Linked DNA regions of Homo sapiens: region 1 is linked to region 2. The links come from fine-mapping of genetic effects on gene expression. A gene starts in region 2. The other region holds a variant in brackets. All regions are shown on one strand. Distances are between the middles of the regions. Region 1 overlaps LOC105375508 (a long non-coding RNA gene). Region 2 holds the start of KLF14 (KLF transcription factor 14).

Evidence for each region. PIP is the estimated chance that this variant, and not a neighbour inherited with it, causes the effect.
Region 1: its variant is the best candidate, but not a certain one, in a credible set for the expression of KLF14 in subcutaneous fat (FUSION, PIP 0.58).

The regions. Positions count from the first base shown.
Region 1 is chr7:130,754,668-130,760,046 of GRCh38, reverse strand. All of the region lies in intron 3 of LOC105375508 (a long non-coding RNA gene), which reads right to left. Among named protein-coding and RNA genes, the nearest start is that of KLF14, 23 kb to the right of the region's middle. The variant AAAAAAC/C (reference allele first, on the strand shown) is at 2,353.
Region 2 is chr7:130,731,646-130,737,024 of GRCh38, reverse strand. KLF14 (KLF transcription factor 14) reads left to right here and starts at 2,818. Exons shown (of 1, transcript NM_138693.4): 1 at 2,818-5,379. The coding sequence starts at 2,992. The coding sequence ends at 3,963. It overlaps LOC105375508 (a long non-coding RNA gene), which reads right to left and starts at 2,761. Exons shown (of 4, transcript XR_927978.3): 1 at 2,643-2,761; 2 at 56-104. RefSeq lists silencers at 3,005-3,084, 3,155-3,314 and an enhancer at 3,210-3,747.

The sequences.
Region 1 (5,379 bases), 23 kb before region 2:
TGTAATCCCAGCACTTTGGGAGGCCAAGGCAGGCGGATCATGAGGTCAGGAGATAGAGACCATCCTGGCTAACATGGTGAAACCCCGTCTCTACTAAAAATACACAAAAAAAATTAGCCAGGCGTAGTGGCAGGAGCCTGTAGTCCCAGCTACTCAGGAGGCTGAGGCAGGAGAAGGGCATGAACCCAGGAGGCGGAGCTTGCAGTGAGCCGAGATCACGCCACTGCACTCCAGCCTGGGCAACAAAGCTAGACTCCGTCTCAAAAAAAAAAAAAAAAAAAATCTCCTAGCACTTTGGGAGGCCAAGGCGGGCAGATCACCTGAGGTCAGGAGTTCGAGACCAACCTGGCCAACATGGTGAAACCCAGCCTCTACTAAAAATACAAAAATTAGCCAGGCATGGTAGCACACGCCTGTAATCCCAGCTCGGGAGGCTGAGGCAGGAGAATCACTTGGACCCGTGAGGCGGAGGTTGCAGTGAGCTGAGATCGCGCCACTGCACTCCAGCCTGGGTGACAAGAGCAAAACTCCATCTCAAAAAAAAAAAAAAAAAAAAATTAGCCAGCCATGGTGGTGGGTGCCTGTAATCCCAGCTACTTGGGAGGCTGAGCCAGGAGAATCTCTTAAAACTCAGGAGGCAGAGGTTGCAGCGAGCAGAGATCGCACCACTTTACTTCAGCCTGGGAGACAGAGTGAGACTCTGTCTCAAATAAATAAATAAATAAATAAATAAATAAATAAATATCGATGGAATTTTAAAAATGAACAAAATTTTTCTAAAGTTCACCTGAAAAAGTAACAGTGGGAAAAAGGGGAAAACTATTTTGAGAACGAATAATGTTATACTAGTGAATGTAGTAATACAAGAAAATTTTCAAAATATATTAACTTGTTTAAAGTACATTACAAAATGTCATGGGCATAAATTCTGTTAAAACATAAATTATCCATAAAAAGTGGCTTGTAGCAGATATAGCAAAATGTTGTAAGTGGTTATCTTTTGGTGAAGAAAATAATGGACTTTTTAAAAACTCATCTGTTTCCCAAATTTTCCAAAATAAACGTCAAATATACCCGTATAATACATTACTATTGTATAGAGGAAGAAATAATAGGTGCTCCTTTTATAAAAACTCAGATAACATCTAATTCTTCAGGAAGTCTTTCCTTGTCTAACCCCATCCCTCCAGATCTGGACTAGGAGGCTTTTTACTATTTTCAGATACAGTATCATAATTATTTGCTCTTCTCTATTCCAACTTTGTAAGAGTTTGATAAATAAAACTGTGTCTTTTATTTCTGTATCTCTAATACAGGAACTACTATGTATCAGGATGCAATGAATAAATATGAAAAAAAGAAATAAATAAGAAAATTCACAACTTCTTCTACCACCACTAGAGGGAACCACATTCCCTTTAGTGAGCTCCCTCTAGGAGCTTTTATCTTTTTAAACAAGACTGTTCAAATCTAAGAAACCTTCTAGAAGGGATTATCTCCTGATGGGGACTGTTATAAACATTCCTAAAAATGATATGTCTATCCTAAAATTAGTCCCAAAATATTCCAAGATATTTTATCTTATCCAAATACTGGACTCAATATCTGCTCCATACATTTTGGCACTAATCAAAAGCAATTTTATTGGTTATCAAATTGTAGCCTGTGTCTGTCTTACCTCCACAACAAGAGAGTAAGCTCATGTTTAAGATCATTTCTCTCACATTAACCAGCTCAGGTATAATCACTAAATTTGTGCAAAAACACTTTATTTTAGTTAAAAGGTTAACATGCTCCCTTCAATCATGTGCCACACTAAGAAAATCCAACAGGCAACGTTCCAAACTTACAAAACACAAAAGTTATGTGTTGATTCTAAGAATACTCTCAGATTTATTGAAGGTTTCAACAGATAGTGACAATAAAAAGCCTCTCTTGATACACTTAAAATATTAGCCTGGTTTTCGAATTAAAGTGGTAGCTACTTTTACAAGGGATAGTTACGATTTAGAGAATAACAGCCTATTCCTGATGAGACTTGGGAGCCAGACACGTCAAATTAAGGGGAAGAGGTATCTCCAGAAGAACGTGGAACTGGGATTTGCTTCATTTTTTTTTTTTTTAAGTTGGGGGCATCTGTTACTTGCAGAGCTCTGTGTTGTAAGGGCTGGAATACACGTATAGTTTAGAAAAAAAAAAAAAGACCAGGCCAGGCGCAGTGGCTCATGCCTATAATCCCAGCACTCCGGGAGGCCGAGGCAGGCAGATCACAGGGTCAGGAGTTTGAGACCAGCCTGACCAACATGGTAAAACCCCATCTCCACTAAAAATACAAAAAAAAAAAAAAAAAAA[AAAAAAC/C]TAGCTGGGCATGGTGGTGCACGCCTGTAACCCCAGCTACTCAGGAGGCTCAGGCAGGAGAATCGCTTGAACCACAGAGGTGGAGGTTGCTGTGAGCCGAGATCACGCCATTGCACTCCAGCCTGGGTGACAGAGCGAGACTCCGTCTCAAAAAAGAAAAGAAAAGAGAAGAGAAGTAAAAGACCAGTGGCAACAGTAGTTAGTAGGTCTCCAGCACTGTCCACCAGGGGCCTGGTGGCTACCAGAGCTCAAATCCCAGTTCCATTACCTACTAATTTGTGTGAGCTCAAACAACTTACTCAACCTGTCAATGTGTCTGATGCCCCGGTGCAAAATGGGGAGGACAATCAGAACCTACTGCATCAGACTCTCACGAGGAGTAAATGAAATAACGTGAAAAGTTCTCAGAATAGTACCTGTATGTGGTAAATGCTCAAAATATTCACTATTACTCATAAACTCATTCAACCAATTACACAGAAAGACTTTAACAAACAGTGCCTGGCACAGAATAGGCACTATGAGTGTGGCCTGTTATTATTATATGGGAGAGAGAAGGGCCCCGGATACTCCCTAAGTTTCTTGATCCCCTTGAAAGATGTATTCCCATCCCACGTGCATGGTCATCAGGCTATCCCACAGCTTCCTAACACCAGCTACTATGATTATGCCTGCAACAACCTTTATTCTGATTCCAGATTCAGTAAATAACCTTTTGTTAGTAAGTTAGCATCCTATGTAAGCATTTTGCTAAGAAGAAATGTACTGGCAAACTGATACTAATATCACCAATATGGCAGTCTTTATTAGTTAAGGATAGAAAATACGATCACATTTCCATTAACGTTCAATTTGGAGGGACTTTAAGCCCCTTCCTGACCAAATTAGTAGGAATTAAGACTTTCCAGTGATTCTTTTCCCACGAATATTATGAAGGAAATAAAGTTCATTCAATTAAATCAACAAATATTTATTAAGCACTTGCTGTGTGCCTGACACCGTTCAAAGCATTATAGTTAAAGCAGTGAACAAAACAGATCCCTGCTTTCATAGGGCTAGCATTCTAGTGAAGGAGACAAATGAGAAATAAGGGGTGGGTTAAATAATATCAGAGCTAGAGAGTACTAAGTAGCAAGAAGAGAAAGCAACAAGTGAAAGGATCTATAAGAAGAAAGGGGTAAGGGTGATGCAATCTTAGGTAGAGAAGCCAGGGATATCAGGAGATAAGGGTGGCATCCATTTGTTTGAGAGCCAGTTAACTCCGTGGCTCATCTGCTATAACAAGTTGGGAGAGCCAGCTTCAAATGTTCCCCAATCCAGGTCAATCCCCACAACTGTTTGTTCACCCCATACCTCCCCTCCTGCTGAACTAAGGGGCATCCAGGGCTACTCCACCACTGCCAGGACTGCCTCTCTCACATGCAATCCTGCAAATCCACAGCCCCAGCCTCCTCTGCTACCACTCCCTCTGACAAAGACCACAGAGGCCAGTGGGGCCCAACTTCCAGGCCCTCCACAGGACAAGAGCAGCTCTTCCTACCCCAGAACCTCTTTGGCCTCCTCATACCTCCAAGTTGGGCCCAGCAATCACAGAACATCCCTCCCTCTTTCCTTTTCAACCATAGAATTAGCCACCTCCTATAATGACAGGAAGAAAGGGCTTCCTGGCCTAAATAGGCAATCCCCAAATAAAATAGCCCAACTTTGATCAATTTCCTAAGGTCTGGGTATCCATCCCAGTCTCAAGGACCTTGTTACAAGAGTATTCTGTTCCAGGGGTTAGCCAATGTTTTCTGTAAGGCGCCAAAGAATAAATATTTCAAGATTTCAAGCCATATGGGTTTTCTGTTGTAGATTCTTCTTTTTGTTTTGCAACCCATTAAAACTGCTTTAAAAATGTTCTTAGCTCATGGGCTGTACAAAAACAGCCTGCAGACCACAGTTTGACAACCCCCATTCTAATCCATTTGTTTGTTGATTACATTAAAATTAATAAATTGTTGAGGCCAGGTGAGGTGGCTCATGCCTGTAATCTCAGCACTCTGGGAGGCTGAGGCAGGAAGATCCCTTGAGCCCAGGTGTTTGAGGCTGCAGTGAGCTATGATGGCACCACTGCACTCCAGCTGTGGCAACAGAATAAGACCCTGACTCTAAATAATAAGTTGTTATGGTTTATAAATCAGTGTTCTGTTGGTTTATTCAGCATTCACAAGATACAATGACCTGCTCCATCAGATGACGTGTCACTTTGTAAGAACTGGTACATAGTAGGCACTGATTTGTTGCAGAGTGAGATGTACTTTTTGAACAGCAGGCTTGCTGTTGCTCTTGGTTACTCTTCAAGAGAGAATTGTCTTGAGAAGACCTAGATAGACTGCTTTGAATATGGAGGGTGACACCCCATGGCATGGCTGGAAAGGAGACAGTACAGAGAGAGAGTCACGCTGCTCTGCAGGACTCATCCATGAGCAGAGGAAAGTTGGGGAAATTCGTAGGTGGGAATGGAGGGGAAATGGGGGGGACCACATATGAGGTGACTGAGGCCCATGAGGGAAGGTGAAAAGAAGCACAGTCCTGTGGCAGAGCGGCCAAAGACTTTTTAAGTAAAATCAATGAGACTGTCGAACATTGCCTTTGAAGTTATCTGCACTGCTGAAATACAAACCCCTTCTCGATCCCAAACCTCTAGTCTGTGGCTTTTTCTTTTTCTTTACAAGCAAGGCTACTGGAGCTAACTTCAGAACGGCAGGATTTATTGGAAAATATGCAGCAAATCAAAGAATTAAAGGAACTATTGAAAAGCAAGGATCAGAAATGTGGTGCTGGCGACCCAGCTGGTCTGCAGCTCTTGAGGTCAGTGGGCAGCTGCCCACTCCAGACTCAGAGTGCAACTTCCCAGGTCCTTGCCCTAGAGTTGACAGGACACCTTACCAGCCCCCTGGATCCACTTCCACTGGGGAGGGGCAGCTTCCCAAAGCTGACTGGGGTTCTATGACCAGGAAGTGGGGGGCTATTGGACAG
Region 2 (5,379 bases):
TCTCGTGTGGAAAGCAAAACTTTAAAACATTAAGGAAGAAGACATAAGAGGCTACCTTTATGCATCAGGTATGGAGAGGTTTCTTTAATAATCCACAAATGACACTATAAAGAAAGAGATCAATGAATATGAGTACATTTTAAATTGTCTATAGTACAAAAGACATCAAAAGCAGTTAAAAGACAAGCCACAGACTGAGACAATATATTTAATGTTTACACGCATGAATTCCTACAAATCAGGAGGAAAAAAGATAAAACATACACGATCTACTGAAAAAAATGAATGAAGACTGTGAAAAAACAAATCACAGACTTGGAAACCTCAATAACCAACAAACATATGGGGAAAAAATGCTTAACTTTGCTAGCAGTGAGGGAAATTCAAATAAGACAACAAGATACTGTTTTTTAAAATAATCAAATTGGCAGGAATAATAAAAATCTTAATCTAGAAAGTGTTGAAGATCATGTGAGGGAAACGTGAACTGTCACACACTTCTGATGGGTGTGCAAATTGAAGCATTTGGCAGTCTCTCGCAAAACTGAAAATGTGTGTGGAGCCCGGCAATTCCCCATCTAGGTAGATACATAGAGAAATTCTCACATATGTGCAAAGGAAACATGTACAAGTAGTACCAAAATATTGGCAGCAGTTTAATATTCATCAATAGGGGAATGAATAAACAGGACACATTTGTATGCATGGATCCACACTATAGCAATTAAAATGAATGAATTGGATCTATATTTATCAACACGAAGAGAAAAAATAAAAACATACCATGAATGAAAAAAATAAGTCCAAGAATAATATGCACAGCCTAATACCATGTTTGTACATTTAAAAAAATCATATAAACCAATATTCTGCATTTTATAGGTTCACATCCAGTTAAATTGTAAAACCCAGACTGGAAAGTTACATACCAAATTCATGTTAGTGTTTGCCTTTGGGGAAAAGGGTGGAGAATGGTATTGGGGGCAGTACAAGGGGACCTTCAATTTTATCAGAAATGTTGAATACTTAATAGATCTGAGGGAGATATAACAAAATGTTAACATATTCATTATATGAGACAGGTATATGGGTGCTTGTAATGTTCTCTCTGCATTTTAAATATCTTCACATTTTTTCTAAATAATAAAATTAAAACAGCTAGTAAATTATTCTATCTGATAGATTTTAATGTGTAGATTAACGAAGAGTTAATCGTCTAGAGGAACTTCAGAAAAATTAACTGTTTTGCAATGGAATCGCCTTAAAAATAATAACACTGACAATATTATTTAAAAACTGCTGAAATGAATAAAGTAGATTCTATAGGTGTCAACCTGGATAGCTGTCAAAATCATATTGAGGGAAAGAAGTTGCAAAATGATATGTATACTAGTGAACCATTTACTTAAAAATTTTAATAAATAAGCATGGAGATATACATATATTTACATGTATAATTAGGTAATACGGGTATCAAAACAAATGCAGATTAAATAGCCACTTTATAATACTAATTACCTAGAAAAGTGAAGAGGGAGAAAGGTGAATGGAACTGGGGAGGGAAACAAAGTGACATTCAACTCTATCTGTAATGTTTAATATAAATAAAAACATGAAACAACTATAACAAAAATTTCACATTTGATTACCCTAGGCAGTAAATACATGAACGTATGTTATTCTTGATACATACGTATTAATTTTCAAAAGAAAAAGTACTGAAGAACTACAAATAAAATGCACACAATTCACTCATATAAAAGCTTGTATACATCAAAAACTAAGATATGACTATTTTTAGAAATTATCCTGTTTGTTTTTCTATGTAGTTTTACATTTTTAAAAAGAAAAACGAGGGAAAAAATGAGAGCAATGAAGACACGTAAAAGAAACCGTACATGCATTTGATTATAAAAAAGGCAAACCTCCACAATCACAAAACACCATATGAGCATTCTATATCATGTGCTGCATTTCCTTACATTTAACTTTCGTCAAAAGCAAATTACAAGATAATGCCTAATTGGAAACGTGACTTTCTATTATTAAAATGGTGGGAGTCCATTTTAATGTGTTTATCTCGCCGCTAGACTATAATTTATATCTCAGCGTTTAAATTTGTTTGGATGCCAGTGACAGGTTAATGCAGTTTAAACATGCATTTTTCTTTCGTTGGCTGAATAGTTAAATCGTTACTCAAAGGATTTTAAGTTTCAATTTCAACCGGGAGAGGATTCTTTGCTTTTCCAAGGTTAAAACTGTTTCTGGTTCGAGATGCTATTAATTAATGGCTACGTAGCGGATCTATTTAGGGAACTGCTCCCGGCCCCGGGTTCACAGTTGACCTGCTCAATGAGAAAACTTTTTTTGCTACAGACTTGGGGATATTTGCAATTTAGTCTGAGAGCGGCGAACGGGGAGTGAAATGGAATTCGAGACCACTTCGCTAACAATCGCAATTATGAACCGAAAGACATGTCAGGTATTAGCAATTTTTTTCCTTAAAAAAAAAAAAAACTTTCTGGGACTCCGCGGGACACCCAGCTGGCGACGGACCAGCGGGCGGCGGGCTGCGGGGAGGGGGGGCGAGGCTGCTGCAACCCAGAAGTTCCGACTGGGGAGTTTCGCTCTGTTACCATTACCTGGCTCGCCGGCAGAAGAAAGAACGCGGAGACAAGATAATTTCTGAGGCTGTTAAACATGACTTAGCCGGGGGCCGCGCGTTCCGAGGGGGTGTCCTGCGGGCCGGGGCGGGTCTCTGCCGCCCCCGCGGGCTCCGGTGCGTCAGGGGCGCGTCAGGCGGGGCGGGCTCCGCGCGGGCGGCGGCGGCAGCGGCGGCTGCGGCGGCGGCGGCGGCAGCAGGCGGCAGGCGGCGAGCACCCGGCCTCCTGCTTCTCGCTCCGAGGCTGCGGGACGGACGCTCCCGGGAACTCCGTCGCCCGCGGCCGGCCGCGTTCGGACGGCGCTCGCCGGCGGCCGGGCGGTCCCAGCATGTCGGCCGCCGTGGCGTGCCTGGACTACTTCGCCGCCGAGTGCCTGGTGTCCATGTCCGCGGGCGCCGTGGTTCACCGCCGCCCGCCGGACCCCGAGGGCGCGGGTGGAGCCGCTGGCTCGGAGGTGGGTGCGGCGCCGCCGGAGTCCGCTCTGCCGGGTCCGGGGCCACCGGGGCCCGCGTCGGTCCCCCAGCTCCCGCAGGTCCCCGCCCCCAGCCCCGGCGCGGGCGGCGCCGCGCCCCACCTGCTGGCTGCAAGCGTCTGGGCGGACTTGCGCGGCAGCTCTGGCGAGGGCTCCTGGGAGAACTCGGGGGAAGCTCCACGCGCCTCGTCCGGCTTCTCCGACCCGATCCCGTGCTCCGTCCAGACCCCGTGCTCCGAGCTGGCTCCCGCCTCCGGCGCCGCGGCGGTCTGCGCTCCCGAGAGCTCCTCCGATGCGCCCGCCGTCCCAAGCGCGCCTGCTGCCCCGGGCGCACCAGCAGCCTCTGGTGGGTTCTCTGGAGGGGCCCTAGGGGCAGGCCCCGCCCCCGCCGCGGATCAGGCGCCCCGGAGGAGGTCTGTCACACCTGCTGCCAAGCGCCACCAATGCCCCTTCCCGGGCTGCACCAAAGCCTATTACAAGTCGTCGCACCTCAAGTCCCACCAGCGCACCCACACGGGTGAGCGCCCTTTCTCCTGCGACTGGCTCGACTGCGACAAGAAGTTTACGCGTTCCGACGAGCTGGCCCGCCACTACAGGACGCACACGGGCGAGAAGCGCTTCTCCTGCCCCCTCTGCCCCAAGCAGTTCTCCCGGAGCGACCACCTGACCAAGCATGCTCGCCGCCACCCAACCTATCATCCAGATATGATCGAGTACCGGGGACGTCGTCGAACTCCCCGCATCGACCCGCCACTCACCAGCGAGGTGGAAAGCTCCGCCTCCGGCTCCGGTCCCGGCCCGGCGCCCAGCTTCACCACCTGCCTGTAGGACAGTCATTGCTGTCAGTCTTACCCTCAAGGATGATCCCCCAGGCCGTTGTCCCTGCTTTCTCTCTGCCCATCCTTCTTTCCCAGAGTCATTACACCAAGGCACAGACTGGTTCCTCTGCTCTGAGGGTGGGTCCAGGCAGACATGTGGACTCTGGGGAGGTACTGGGGGCCGGAAAATAGCGGGAATTCTTGCAACGTGTATATCATCCTAAAAGTGGGGGTTGCCTCAAGACAGCCCCCAGGAACTGATAAGAAGGGATGAACTCCCGTACTCTCCAGAGTACTGAAGATTCTCCCCTCCCTGGAACCAGGGATGTGAAACTGGAATTCTCAGATGCCTGAGGAGCTCCCAGTCTCAAAGGACTCTGGTGTCTCACCCATCCACCAGGGCGGACCTTGGAGAGGGTGTCAGGGGTGGCAGTCTTGGAAATGTCCAGGACTGGGATGGTGAGAGGCCTTTGGAAACAGAAATGATTTCTATTTCTGTAAACAGCAATGTTTACTAATTTATTTTTAGCATCTTTTAAATAGGGATCCCAGGTTGATGGGAGGCTTATGCCCTCCAATCCCCCAATTGCCCCAGCTACCTCTGCTAGGAGAGGCCACATAAGCTCCATGTAGATGTGTGGCTGGGAGATACTTCTTGATGTCTGGGGTGTGAGTCTGTTTGCAGGTCCTGTTGCATGATTTGGAACCCTGCGCTTGCGTCGTAGCCCTTCTCCCCATTTGGATTCCTACTTGAGGATGGTAACTTCCTGGCTCACTCTCACGCTGAGATTGGTTAAACAATTTGAAAACTACCGTAAAGGCACCAGCAAGAAAAGGGTGGTCCAGACTAGTTCCCCCTTCACTCAGAGAGAAAACTCAAGCGACCTTAAGTTTGGGCGGGGCCCGAAACAAGACCGCTCATAACCATTGATAACTTTCAGGGAAATAGAGGCGTGTGGACACAGCTGCCCCACCTTATGTAATCTCAGGAGTGGTAGATTCTGTTAATTTCCTAATGGCTAACTAGGGGGTTATTTCCCTCAGAGTCTGCAGATTTTCGTTTCTGAAACAGGTGAGTTGGTGGGTGGGAGAGGGAAGGGTAACAGACTGGTTTCTTCCAAGGAGCTGGCTGCCTTGGATTTGAGGAAGGAGTAGCAAGGTGATAGCTATTATGAAATAGGAGGAACTTTCTCCTCTGACCATATAGTCCCTCCAAGTTATATCCTCAGGGCCCCTTTCCCGATAAGAAGGAATCAGACATCAACAGTATTTGTTTTTTCTATATGTGTCTCTGCTGCTGTGGATGAAATCACTGACCACTCTGCTTGTGTATGTATGAATGTGTATATATGTGACCCTTTCTTTAGAGATGAGGCTGAAAGGCATTTCCTGCCCTGGGAGATCCCCTCTGGCCCCCTCCTGAATA